3 linked regions of the Homo sapiens genome follow. The protein of the gene in region 2 interacts with the protein of the main gene of each other region in a pairwise test. Each region holds a gene or a part of one and is shown on either strand. Other genes may lie near its edges. The genes, in order: PLG, FOXD4L6 and ARG2.

Region 1 (3,652 bases), on a different chromosome or scaffold from region 2:
TGGAAACACCTTAGTTCTTGTATTCTTGAGGATGATTTGCCATATTGTGTCTAGTATTACGGCAAAACTCTAAGTAGCATTTTAAATAGTATTTATTTGGGTTGGAATTATTTCTATGCATTGACTCATCTTCCTGGGTTTCATTAGCTGTACGCATTGTACTTCCTTCCTTACCACTATTTATCTCGAATTCTTGAGATTAAAGTGCAGATTAAATCTAAACTTTATCTGGTGAAGTTATTAGTTCTTACAAGTAGCAAGCAAACGGTAAACTAAATAGGATCACCTAATTGTACCAGATTTTAAAAAAAAAAAACCCTGATTCTCCTGATTCTCTCTACAAAATGCTAACATTTAAATATGTCATTTGTAAATTGTTAACCAGAAGGAACATGGGAATGACTGTAGGTTGAGTTTGAAGTCTGAAGTTTGAAGGCTTAGTTTGCTTGTTTTCAAAGTGACAGAAGGGAGCAAAAGGTTATATAAACTCTGATGGGTACATACAAAAAAAAAAGAAGTGAAAAGTCAAAAGTCAGTCATTTTTTGGTCCTTGTTTCTTTGCTGTGGGATATTGACCTGCTACTAACTTACCTGCCAGGGTTTTGCCAGGAACAGTCAGTGTTAGATCACATTTACTTCTGCCACTTGCCACCAGCCACACTGCCTTCACCAAGTCCAAGACCCTATCACCACTGGTTGGGGCTACTTGTAGCTGTACACATGATCTCTAAGAAATGTAACTTCCCTGTTTAAAGCCCTTCCTAGTGCCCTTAAAATAAGACCCAAAGACTTCCCAAATGTGCTAGGGCCCAGCATTATTTAAGTAACCCCCAGCTGCTGTTTGCTTGGCTTGCTAAACTTTTCTACACTGGCCTTACTTCTGTTCCTTCACCACCCCAAGCACACACCCTCCTGCCTGGGACCCTCTTCACCTTTGTCCTGCTGTGCCAGCTCCTTCTTATCTCCTAGGTGTCAGCTCAATCATCATGTCCTTTGCAAATCTTCCTTGACCCCTAGACCTCCCTTTCACAAAGTACCTTGAGTTTACACTTTTGATGAGTGTCTTATGTCTACTGTAATACTATGTCCCAATGAAGATGTACTTGCAATCATAATACGCAGTATTGGGTTAAAAGCATTAGTTTGCTGTAGGTATGTTAGGAGCACTTTCCCCATGTGATTGATCAATTAATTAAAAAATGGCTAAAGTGGGTAACCTTAAATGATGGTGTAAATATACCTTAAACATTTTATATTTTCATTGAAAACACAAGTGTACTTGACACCTTTTGACGTAGAGCAGAGGCTTTTCTTCTTCGAATATGGGGTCACCAGTAGAAGGTCTCTGGTGTATTTCCTGCATAAACTATGCTCCAGTGCAACATCTACAATAATTACTTTCCTTATTTTTGAAGTGGACCATATCTCGACATTTATTAATCAATCTGAATGTGTAAAACCTTTAGATTTTTATGAATTCCTCCTCAAGCTTTATAGTCAACTATATGAGTGGATTGCCCTCTGTGGATTTGATAGCAATTTTTTAAATGATTCATGTTTCAACTTGTTAAAAACATTTAATTTAGTTAAAAACCAAACAAAAAAGAGCTTTGTTTCTTTTCACATTCATTTCTCAGTTTAGATCATCTTTAATTAAATATAAATGTAAGAAAGTTGGAAAATGCAAAGAAATGACTCGTTGTAAGCACATAACTCACGTGGGGGGAACAGACATGGGTGGGCACACTAGCAAACACCTGCCAGCTGCATGTGGACCCAGGTGGGCACCGGACTGTTTTAAACACAGGAGAGGGCCCGTTGTCTAACTGGTGAGTTGGTTGAGTGGAAGCTGGTTGAGAACTTTTACTGCAAACCATTTACAGTAGACCACAATTTTATAGCCCTGTTTGGCACTTTTTCATATCACTGGGAGCCTGAAGAAATAGAAGTGGGTTGGATCTCTTTCAGCCTCTGAAAAGCCTGCCATTCCCCCATCTAAAAAGCCCTTTCCCCATTCTCTCACTCTGTCTCATCATGTATGTAATATGTATCATCATTAAGTGATCTCATTTTATATTGTTTCCTTGAATATTTCCTGTAACCCCCCTGCCTGATTCCACTAGAATGTAAGCTCCATGACGGCCAAGCCTCTGGCTGCACTGTGCCCCGTGTGTCCCCAGCATCCTGGTGGGGCTCGATACACAGAGAGCTCATAAGTAGCATTTGAATACATGAATCAAAGAATGGCTCAGTTTACTGCAGCCTTTTTGCAGATGCAAAAGATGATCTTTTAGAAAGCAGAAACAGGGGGTCTGGTGCATGAGATCTTTTTCTCAACGTGACTATGCTGTGCAGACCTTCATGTGGTGTCTTGTGAAAGACTTTGACCACTGTGTGGACTTCCCTTCAGTGTATCTCTCAGAGTGCAAGACTGGGAATGGAAAGAACTACAGAGGGACGATGTCCAAAACAAAAAATGGCATCACCTGTCAAAAATGGAGTTCCACTTCTCCCCACAGACCTAGGTAAGACATTCCCTTTCATCTTTGTGTTCATCTACTGTAAAGTTGTCCCTCTGTGTCTGTGAGGGATTGGTTCCAGGACCCCTGTGGCTACCAAAATCCATGCTTCTCAAGTCCCTTATATAAAATGGTGCAGTATTTGCATATAACCTACATACCTTCTCTTGTATAATCCCTAATATAATGTAAATGCTATTTAATCGTTGTTATACTGTATTGTTTTTATTTGTATTATGTTTTATTGTCATATTGTTATTTTCTGTCATCTTTTTCAAGTCTTTTCCATCCACAGTTGGTTGAATTTGTGGATCTGGAACCCATGGATACAGAGGGCCAACTGTATTTAGGATAATTTCATCACTTTTAATTCAAACCACAATATGTGAATAAGCAGATAGAAAGAATCTTTTTGATGTCGATGTTCAACTATTTTTGGCACCATAGTAGAACATGGTTGCTTTCTATTTTTTCTTGGATATGGAGGTTTCTTGAAGACCTAGAACATAGAAGAATGCCTAGTTTAAAAAAAATCAATGAAACTATGAGTTTTAGGCCAAATCTGAGAAAAGATCAAAGATGACTATGTTTGGGACTGAAGTAAGCATATCAGGTTAGAACTCTCATCACATGTTCGACTCAAATTGTGGAGCAAAAGAGTAAATAAGATATAAAAATGAAAATGAAGATACGTGAAATTCAAATGTTGCAACTTGCCTATTATTTATTTTAGTGCATTTTTTTGTACTTTTCCCAGTTTGGTGTTAGGTGGCATTAAGTTCTCAGTAATGACGCTTATCAAATAGGAACTTAGTGCTTGTTACTCACCTTTATCCATTCCCCCAACACTCAACAAATTGCCTTTGCTATATCCCTATGAGATGAGCAGATCAAATATTCCCCGTGAGTTAATGAAAACTGATTCAACCAAATGGCAAAGTCAGAGACTATCGGGGGCCATGGAGACACTCTGGGCCATTTTTATGAGGTAGTCTAGGCTCATCTTTATGAGGGAACTGAGGTCTCGGGGGGTGGGGGTTATCCCAAATAGGTTCACAGAAGAACCAGAAATAAAACCTGCCTTTCTAGACTGTAAGTCTTGTGATTTTCATCTAAATGGTTGTCTCTATACA
Region 2 (3,752 bases):
ATACCGTGGCATAGTATCTTACTTAGTATTTTAATAAGATTCTTATTTATATAACAAATTTTTTTTATTCCTCTGTAGTGCTACTTTAGTCTCTGAGCTAATTTTCATGAAGCCAATCTAAAAATCGTGTTACTTCTAAGGATGTGGAGGGAGTGAGATGAACAGTTGTGCTGTCATATTGCCCCTCCCCAGTGCAGATAGTGAATGAGGACCCACTGATTTAAAGGCAACACTGCAGCCCCTTCTTGCCTCATTGAAGTCCCAAGTTTTATTACAGTAAAAGCACTTAATGTTGACATTTCTGAAAGAATGAAGAGGCTGGGCATGGCGGCTCACGCCGGTAATCCCAGCACTTTAGGAGGCTGAGGCAAGCGGATCATGAGGTCAGGACATCGAGACCATCCTGGCTAACACGGTGAAACCCCGTCTCTACTAAAAATATTAGCCAGGCGTGGTGGCGAGCGCCTGTAGTCCCATCTACTTGGGAGGCTGAGGCAGGAGAATGGCGTGAACCCAGGAGGCGGAGCTTGCAGTGAGCTGAGATCGCCCCACTGCACTCCAGCCTGGGCGACAGAGCGACTCCGTCTCAAAAAAAAAAAAAGAAAAAAAAAAAAAAGAATGAAGAGCCAGAGCCAGGCATAGTGGCACGCCTGTAGTCCCACCTACTCAGGAGGCTGAGGCGGGAGGATCACTTGAGCCCAGGAATTCAAAGCCAGCCTGCGCAACATAGACCCTGTCTCTAAAAATGAATTGGTTATAAAGGATGAAGAAAGGAAGGAGGAAAGGGAGAGAGAGAAGCCCTTATAGAGTGGGTGCATTTCTTGTATGTGGGGCCACTTTGTAAGAACAGGATTTTTCAAACTGGGCCCATACTGGTATGTGTGAAATCAATTTAGTTGGTTATGGCCATTTTTTTTTAAAAGGAAATATCAGTGATCACTATAGTGTAAGTATATTGTTTCGTGAAACCCATCTTAGTTATGTATTATGTCTGTATGTGTGAGATTGTGATATAAAATGTATTTCTGTGGTTAAATATTCAAAGAAATTGGAGAACCATTGCTACAAGGGGACAGAGGACTCCGTGTGAGCTCTCCTGCCTTCCCTGAGTAAACTTACACAATTTAGTGCTGGGACATTTGAGCCTTTTCTGAAAATTTGAGTCAGGGAGAGCATCTTGAGGAGGTGGGAAGGAAGGTAGAAGGAGCAAAGCAACACCCCCCTGAAGCCTGGGAATATTGTCAGAACCTTAAATATAATTCAGCTCACCATTCTGGGTAAGGGCAGACTCTACCAATGAAAATGGGTGATTACCAGCTGTGAAACACAAAAACATACTTTTACGGTTACACATTCCTTTACAAACAACCGTGTACATTTCAGCCTCCTGCCCCACCATTTCTTTTCTCCAGGCGGGAAGGCTGCATGTTGAGGTGGTCATAGAATGTTGAGTATCATACTTTCCTACCTCGCTTTTATTTGCGCGGGTTTAAATGCGCCTTAACAGAACCCGTGCAAAGGCTTGCCAACTGTCTGGCTGCACCGGATGAGTAGAGCATCTTCCTTGGTGGCAGGTGGGTGCGAGGAGGAGGGGGCTGGGCTTTTCTCCGGACGGGTGTTTGCCCAGAAGACCATCATCCCTGGACTACGTTAGGAGGAAGTGGCACCGCTCCGAGGTAGGGGAAGAAGGGTTATAAAGGGGGGAGTCCACCACACATGGTCTTGAAGAAGCTTTTATAAAAGGCAAAGGCATCTTTGCCGGACGTTGTTGCAAAGGAGTAGAAACAAGCAGACGAAAACATCCCAAAGGGTAACCACTAGCGTTCCTGCTTCTTGCAACATTCATCCCAGGCTTCCAGCTCAGCCCGCCCCAGGCTAGGTGATCGGTCGCCACATCCCCTGCGACTGAAGCACCTGCTCCTCCATGAACCTGCCAAGAGCTGAGCGCCTTCGCTCCACACCGCAGCGCAGCCTCCGGGACTCCGATGGGGAAGACGGTAAAATCGATGTCCTGGGAGAGGAGGAAGATGAAGACGAGGTGGAAGACGAGGAGGAGGCGGCGAGCCAGCAGTTCCTAGAGCAGTCGCTCCAGCCGGGGCTGCAGGTGGCCCGGTGGGGCGGGGTTGCGCTTCCCCGAGAGCACATCGAGGGCGGCGGCGGCCCGAGCGACCCCTCAGAGTTTGGCACCAAGTTCAGGGCACCGCCAAGGTCTGCGGCGGCCTCTGAAGATGCCCGGCAGCCGGCAAAGCCCCCCTACTCGTACATCGCGCTCATCACCATGGCCATCCTGCAAAACCCGCACAAGCGCCTCACGCTCAGCGGCATCTGCGCCTTCATTAGTGGCCGCTTCCCCTACTACCGCCGCAAGTTCCCCGCCTGGCAGAACAGCATCCGCCACAACCTCTCGCTGAACGACTGCTTCGTTAAGATCCCCCGCGAGCCGGGCCACCCAGGCAAGGGCAACTACTGGAGCCTGGACCCCGCCTCCCAAGACATGTTCGACAATGGCAGCTTTCTCCGGCGTAGGAAGCGTTTCAAGCGCCACCAACTGACCCCGGGAGCCCACCTGCCCCACCCCTTCCCTCTACCTGCTGCACACGCCGCCCTGCACAACCCCCACCCAGGCCCTCTGCTTGGGGCCCCTGCCCCGCCGCAGCCAGTCCCGGGGGCCTACCCCAACACCGCCCCCGGGAGACGCCCTTACGCTCTGCTGCACCCGCATCCTCTTCGCTACCTACTGCTCTCGGCCCCCGTCTATGCCGGGGCACCGAAGAAAGCAGAAGGCGCGGCCCTGGCGACCCCGGCACCCTTCCCGTGCTGCAGCCCTCACTTGGTCCTCAGCCTTGGGAGGAGGGCAAGGGTCTGGCGTCGCCACCGGGAGGCGGATGCATCTCTTTCAGCATTGAGAGTATTATGCAAGGGGTCAGGGGAGCGGGTACAGGGGCTGCGCAGAGTTTGTCCCCGACCGCGTGGAGCTACTGCCACCTGCTCCAGCGACCATCAAGCCTGTTGCATCCCCAGACCGCTGCCCCTTTGCTGCAAGTGTCCGCCGCCGCCGCTGCTCGGACAATTTTGCAGCAATAGCAGCAGCATCAGGAGGAGGACTGCGCCAACGGCTGCGCTCCCACCAAGGGCGCGGTGCTGGGCGGGCACCTGTCGGCCTCGTCGGCCCTGCTGAGGTATCAGGCAGTGGCAGAGGGCTCTAGGCTGACATCGCTGGCTGCCCCTTTGGGCGGAGAGGGGACCTCACCAGTTTTTTTAGTATCGCCCACGCCCAGTTCCCTGGCCAACTCCGCAGGGCCCTCCTAGAGCCAGGTGGGAGTGGGGAGCGACCCGCAGCTGCTCACTTCACCTTGCGCGGCCCATTCAGGGCGTGTGCATCTGAATCCCGCTGGAGAGCAAACACGAACTTCTGTTCGCTGCAAAATGGTTAGAAAGAAACAGCTGGATTACGTTCCTCTAAAAACCACCTGAACGTAACCTTCGCAGGGCGTCAAGTCATCTTTTCTTGCCTTCGGTTGTGGCTTCTATGGCTGTCCCGATTTGCGCATTTCCTGGGGTACTATGAACGTGAGTGGGGTATTTTGTTCTGGCATTAAAAGAAAAACAAGCAAGCAAACAAAAACACAGCCTCCGATGCCAAACATGTTCCCCCTTCTTCACTTCCTTGGAGCTGGAAGTATTATTCCTAAGTCTAGTGCAAAATGCTTCTACTCTCTGTGTCTTCCTGATAGGGATGTTTAATGTAAGTA
Region 3 (3,652 bases), on a different chromosome or scaffold from region 2:
CTGTCTAAAAAAAAAAGTTTGTGTGAATATATGTTTTGAATTCTGTTAGGTATATACATAGGAATGGATTTGCTTGAGGACACAGTAACTATACATTTAACTTTGAGGATCTGCCAAACTGTTTTCCAAAGTGGCTGCAGTTTTACATTCACACCAGTAGTGTATGACAGGTCGAATCTTTTTACACCCTCACCAATACTTGGTATTGTCTATCTTTTTTATCATAGCCATCCTAGTGGGTGTGAAATGGTATTTCATTGTAGTTTTGTGGTTTTTTTTTTCCCCTGAGACAGAGTCTCACTCTGTTGCCCAGGCTGGAGTGCAGTGGTACAATCTCTGCTCACTGCAACCTCCACCTCCTAGGTTCAAGTGATTCTCCCACCTCAGCCTCCTGAGTAGCTGGGACTACAGGAGTGTGCCACCACATCCGGCTAATTTTTGTATTTTTTAGTAGAGACGGAGTTTCACCATGTTGATCAGGCTGGTTTGAACTCCTGACCTGAAATGATCTGCCCGCCTCAGCCTCCCAAAGTACTGGGATTACAGGTGTAAGCCGCCACACCCGGCCATTGTAGTTTTAAATTTGCATTTCCGTAATGACTAATGTGTTTACTGCCCATTTGTATAACTTCTTTGGAGAAGTGGCTAATTAAATCTATTGCTAATTTTTAAATTTGGTTGTCTTTTTACGGTTGTTATTTTATTTATGTTTGCCGAACACTAGAATCTTATCAGGTATATGATTTGCAAATATTTTGCCAATTCTATGGGCAGTCTTTTTACCTTTTCTCTTTTTTTTTTTTGGTTTTTCATTACATTGATGAAGTCTTTCCAGTTTCTTTTTTTTTTTTTTTTTTTTGAGATGGAGTTTTGCTCTCGTTGCCCAGGCTGGACTGCAATGGCACAATCTCGGCTCATCACAACCTCCGCCTCCCAGGTTCAAGCAATTCTCCTGCCTCAGCCTCCCGAGTAGTTGGGATTACAGGCATGCACCACCATGCCCGGCTAATTTTTTTTTGTATTTTTAGTAGAGATGGGGTTTCTCCATGTTGAGGCTGGTCTCGAACTCCTGACCTCAGGTGATCCGCCTGCCTCAGCCTCCCAAAGTGCTGGGATTACAGGCGTGAGCCACCGTGCCTGGCCCCCACTTTCTTAATAGTGCTCTTTGAAACATAGATGTATTTAATTTAGCTAAGTCAAGTTTAATTTTTGTCACTTATGATTTTGATGGGATAGCTAAGAAACCAATACCTAACCCAAGGTCGCAAAAATCCAGTCCTATGTTCTCTAACAGTTATATGGTTTCAGCATTACATTTAGGACTTTGGTCCATTTTGAGTTAATTTTCATATATGGTGTGAGATAGGGATTTTTTTTTTTTTAATGTGGATATCCAGTTATCCCAGCACCATTTACTGAAGACTATTCTTTCCTTACTGACTTGTGTTGGTCAAATAAAGACAGCCTTGTGAATGGACAATTTTAGGAAACCATCAGACCAGTCAAATGACAATTTTCTGGGGATGGTCTATGAGGAGTATCACCTCTGTTCTCCCTTTTGCAGTAACTGCCAGCCTCCTGGTTTCACTGTGATTGCAGGCTATCGGTTGTCCAGGCTACAGCTGATCTGGGAAAAGGCAGCATGGGAACAGGGCAAGTTAAAATGCCACAATTCTTAATGTTCTTACTGAGATTCAATGTTTTTCTTGAATAAATGCTCCCCAGATTGCTGCAAGCCTTTGGTTAATTTCCAGAGTTCTGAAAAAGCTGATTCTGATCATTTTTGCCAATGTTCTTGATATGGTTTGGCTCTGTGTTCCCATCCAAATCTCATGTTGAATTTTAATCCCCAATGTTGGAGGTCTGGCCTGGTGGGAGGTGATTGGATCATGGGGGTTGTTCCTAATGGTTCAGCACCATCTCCCTAGTGCTGTCTCATGATAGAGTTCTCATGAGATCCGGTTAAAAGTGTGTATCACCTCCCTCTTCGCTGTCTTCCTCCTGCTCCTGCCATATAAGACGTGCTTGCTTCCCCTTCACCTTCCGCCATGATTATAATTCTCCTGGGGCCTCCCCAGAAGCAGAAGCCTGTATGTCCTGCAGAACCATGAGTCAATTAAACCTCTTTTCTTTTTAAATTACCCAGTCTCAGGTATGTCTTTACAAAAGTACAAGAACAGACTAATACAGTTCTCATTCCTTTTTTGGAGGTCCTATGCCACCATTTTCAATGGTGTCACTATACAGTATTTTAAAACAACACAGATTTCCCATTAAAGTGCAAATTTCTGGCTTTTCTTGAAAAACTGGAGAAAAGAGTACAAGGCCCACTCCTTCTCACATGGTAACAGGTGGCTAGAATTCACAAATTACCATGGTTCTCAGAGCTAACCAAAATCGAGTGCAGATATACTGCTCCTCAGCCTTGCCAGAGCAATGCCTTTTCATTTCTCTTAGGCCCTCTTAAGCCCAGGAGTTCGGGACCAGCCTGGGCAACATAGTGAGACCCCGGCTCTACAAAAGAAAAAAAAATTATCCAGGCATACTGGCATGTGTCTGTAGTCCCAGCTACTCAAGAGGCTAAAGTGGGAGGATCGCTTGAGTCCAGGAGGTTGAGATTGCAGTAGGCTGTGACTATGCCACTGCACTCCAGCCTGAGTGACAGAGTGAGACCCTCTCTCAAAGAAAAATAAAAGGTGGCTGGGAGCAGTGGCTCACTCTTGTAATCCCAGCACTTTGGGAGGCCTAGATGGGCAGATCACCTGAGGTCAGGAGTTCGAGATCAGCCTGGCCAACATGGTGAAACCCCATCTCTACTAAAAATACAAAAATTAGTCAGGCGCAGTGGCAGGCACCTGTAATCCCAGCTACTTTGGAGGTTGAGGCAGGAGAATTGCTTGAACCCGGGAGGCGGAGGTTGCAGTGAGCCAAGATCGCATCACTGTACTCCAGCCTGGTGACAGAGCGAGACTCCGTCTCAAAAAAAAAAAAAAAAAAAAAAAAAAGGTTACCTGAGAGTACTGTTGAGTGTCCTTACTAAGCCCAAGGAAATAAAACAAGCCCAGACACTAAGTCAAATACATTCATTCGAGAGAAAACAGGAAATTTAACTCATGCTATGGTAACACCGGCAGCCTGTGACATCAGAGCAAAGGCAAGGAACAAAGGGATTGTGAAAGTTACCTTTCCATGAGTCTCTCCTTTGAAATTTGATCCATGCTGTTTATTTGAAAGTGTTCAAAACACTCAAGTTATTTTGGTACTGTTTAGGAACAGAGCAACTGAAATGTCTCTTGGTACTTTTCTCCAATATATTCCAGGAGATTAGCCAAAACCACATGCTAGAAATCTGCTGAGAGCCACAGTTTTATTTAATAGGCTATGAGATTCTATTTCAGACTGCTGGTGATACTGAGCTACCAGTCAGCTACACAGTAAGGATATAATTGTACAATTAAATATATTTGAGAAAAAAAGTCAAAGGGAAGGCCATATAAACTGAAGCCTCACCATCACTTTAGGTTGGAGTTTAAAGAGGGAGTAATATTTACAGGAGAATGGCTTCCCCTGGGTTGGAGTGGAAAAATACCAAGAGCTGTGACAGGAAAGGAAGTCTACAAAGCATGAGTAAGAGAAGCTGCTACAAATGTGC

What was found.
Region 1: the proteins of FOXD4L6 (region 2) and PLG interact in binary tests that used the Homo sapiens proteins (3 or more experiments, as listed by UniProt).
Region 3: the proteins of FOXD4L6 (region 2) and ARG2 interact in binary tests that used the Homo sapiens proteins (3 or more experiments, as listed by UniProt).

Annotation. Positions count from the first base shown.
Region 1 is NC_000006.12:160,708,667-160,712,318, forward strand, and holds part of PLG (plasminogen isoform 1 precursor), read left to right. Parts: intron 1-2,410; coding exon 2,411-2,525; coding exon of another isoform or gene 2,526-2,529; exon of another isoform or gene 2,530-3,206; intron 3,207-3,652. UniProt on the Homo sapiens protein: Plasmin dissolves the fibrin of blood clots and acts as a proteolytic factor in a variety of other processes including embryonic development, tissue remodeling, tumor invasion, and inflammation. In ovulation, weakens the walls of the Graafian follicle.
Region 2 is NC_000009.12:41,126,556-41,130,307, reverse strand, and holds the start of FOXD4L6 (forkhead box protein D4-like 6), read left to right. Parts: upstream 1-1,626; 5' UTR 1,627-1,924; coding exon 1,925-3,178; 3' UTR 3,179-3,752.
Region 3 is NC_000014.9:67,622,888-67,626,539, reverse strand, and holds part of ARG2 (arginase-2, mitochondrial precursor), read right to left. Parts: intron 674-3,652; exon of another isoform or gene 1-673. UniProt on the Homo sapiens protein: May play a role in the regulation of extra-urea cycle arginine metabolism and also in down-regulation of nitric oxide synthesis. Extrahepatic arginase functions to regulate L-arginine bioavailability to nitric oxid synthase (NOS).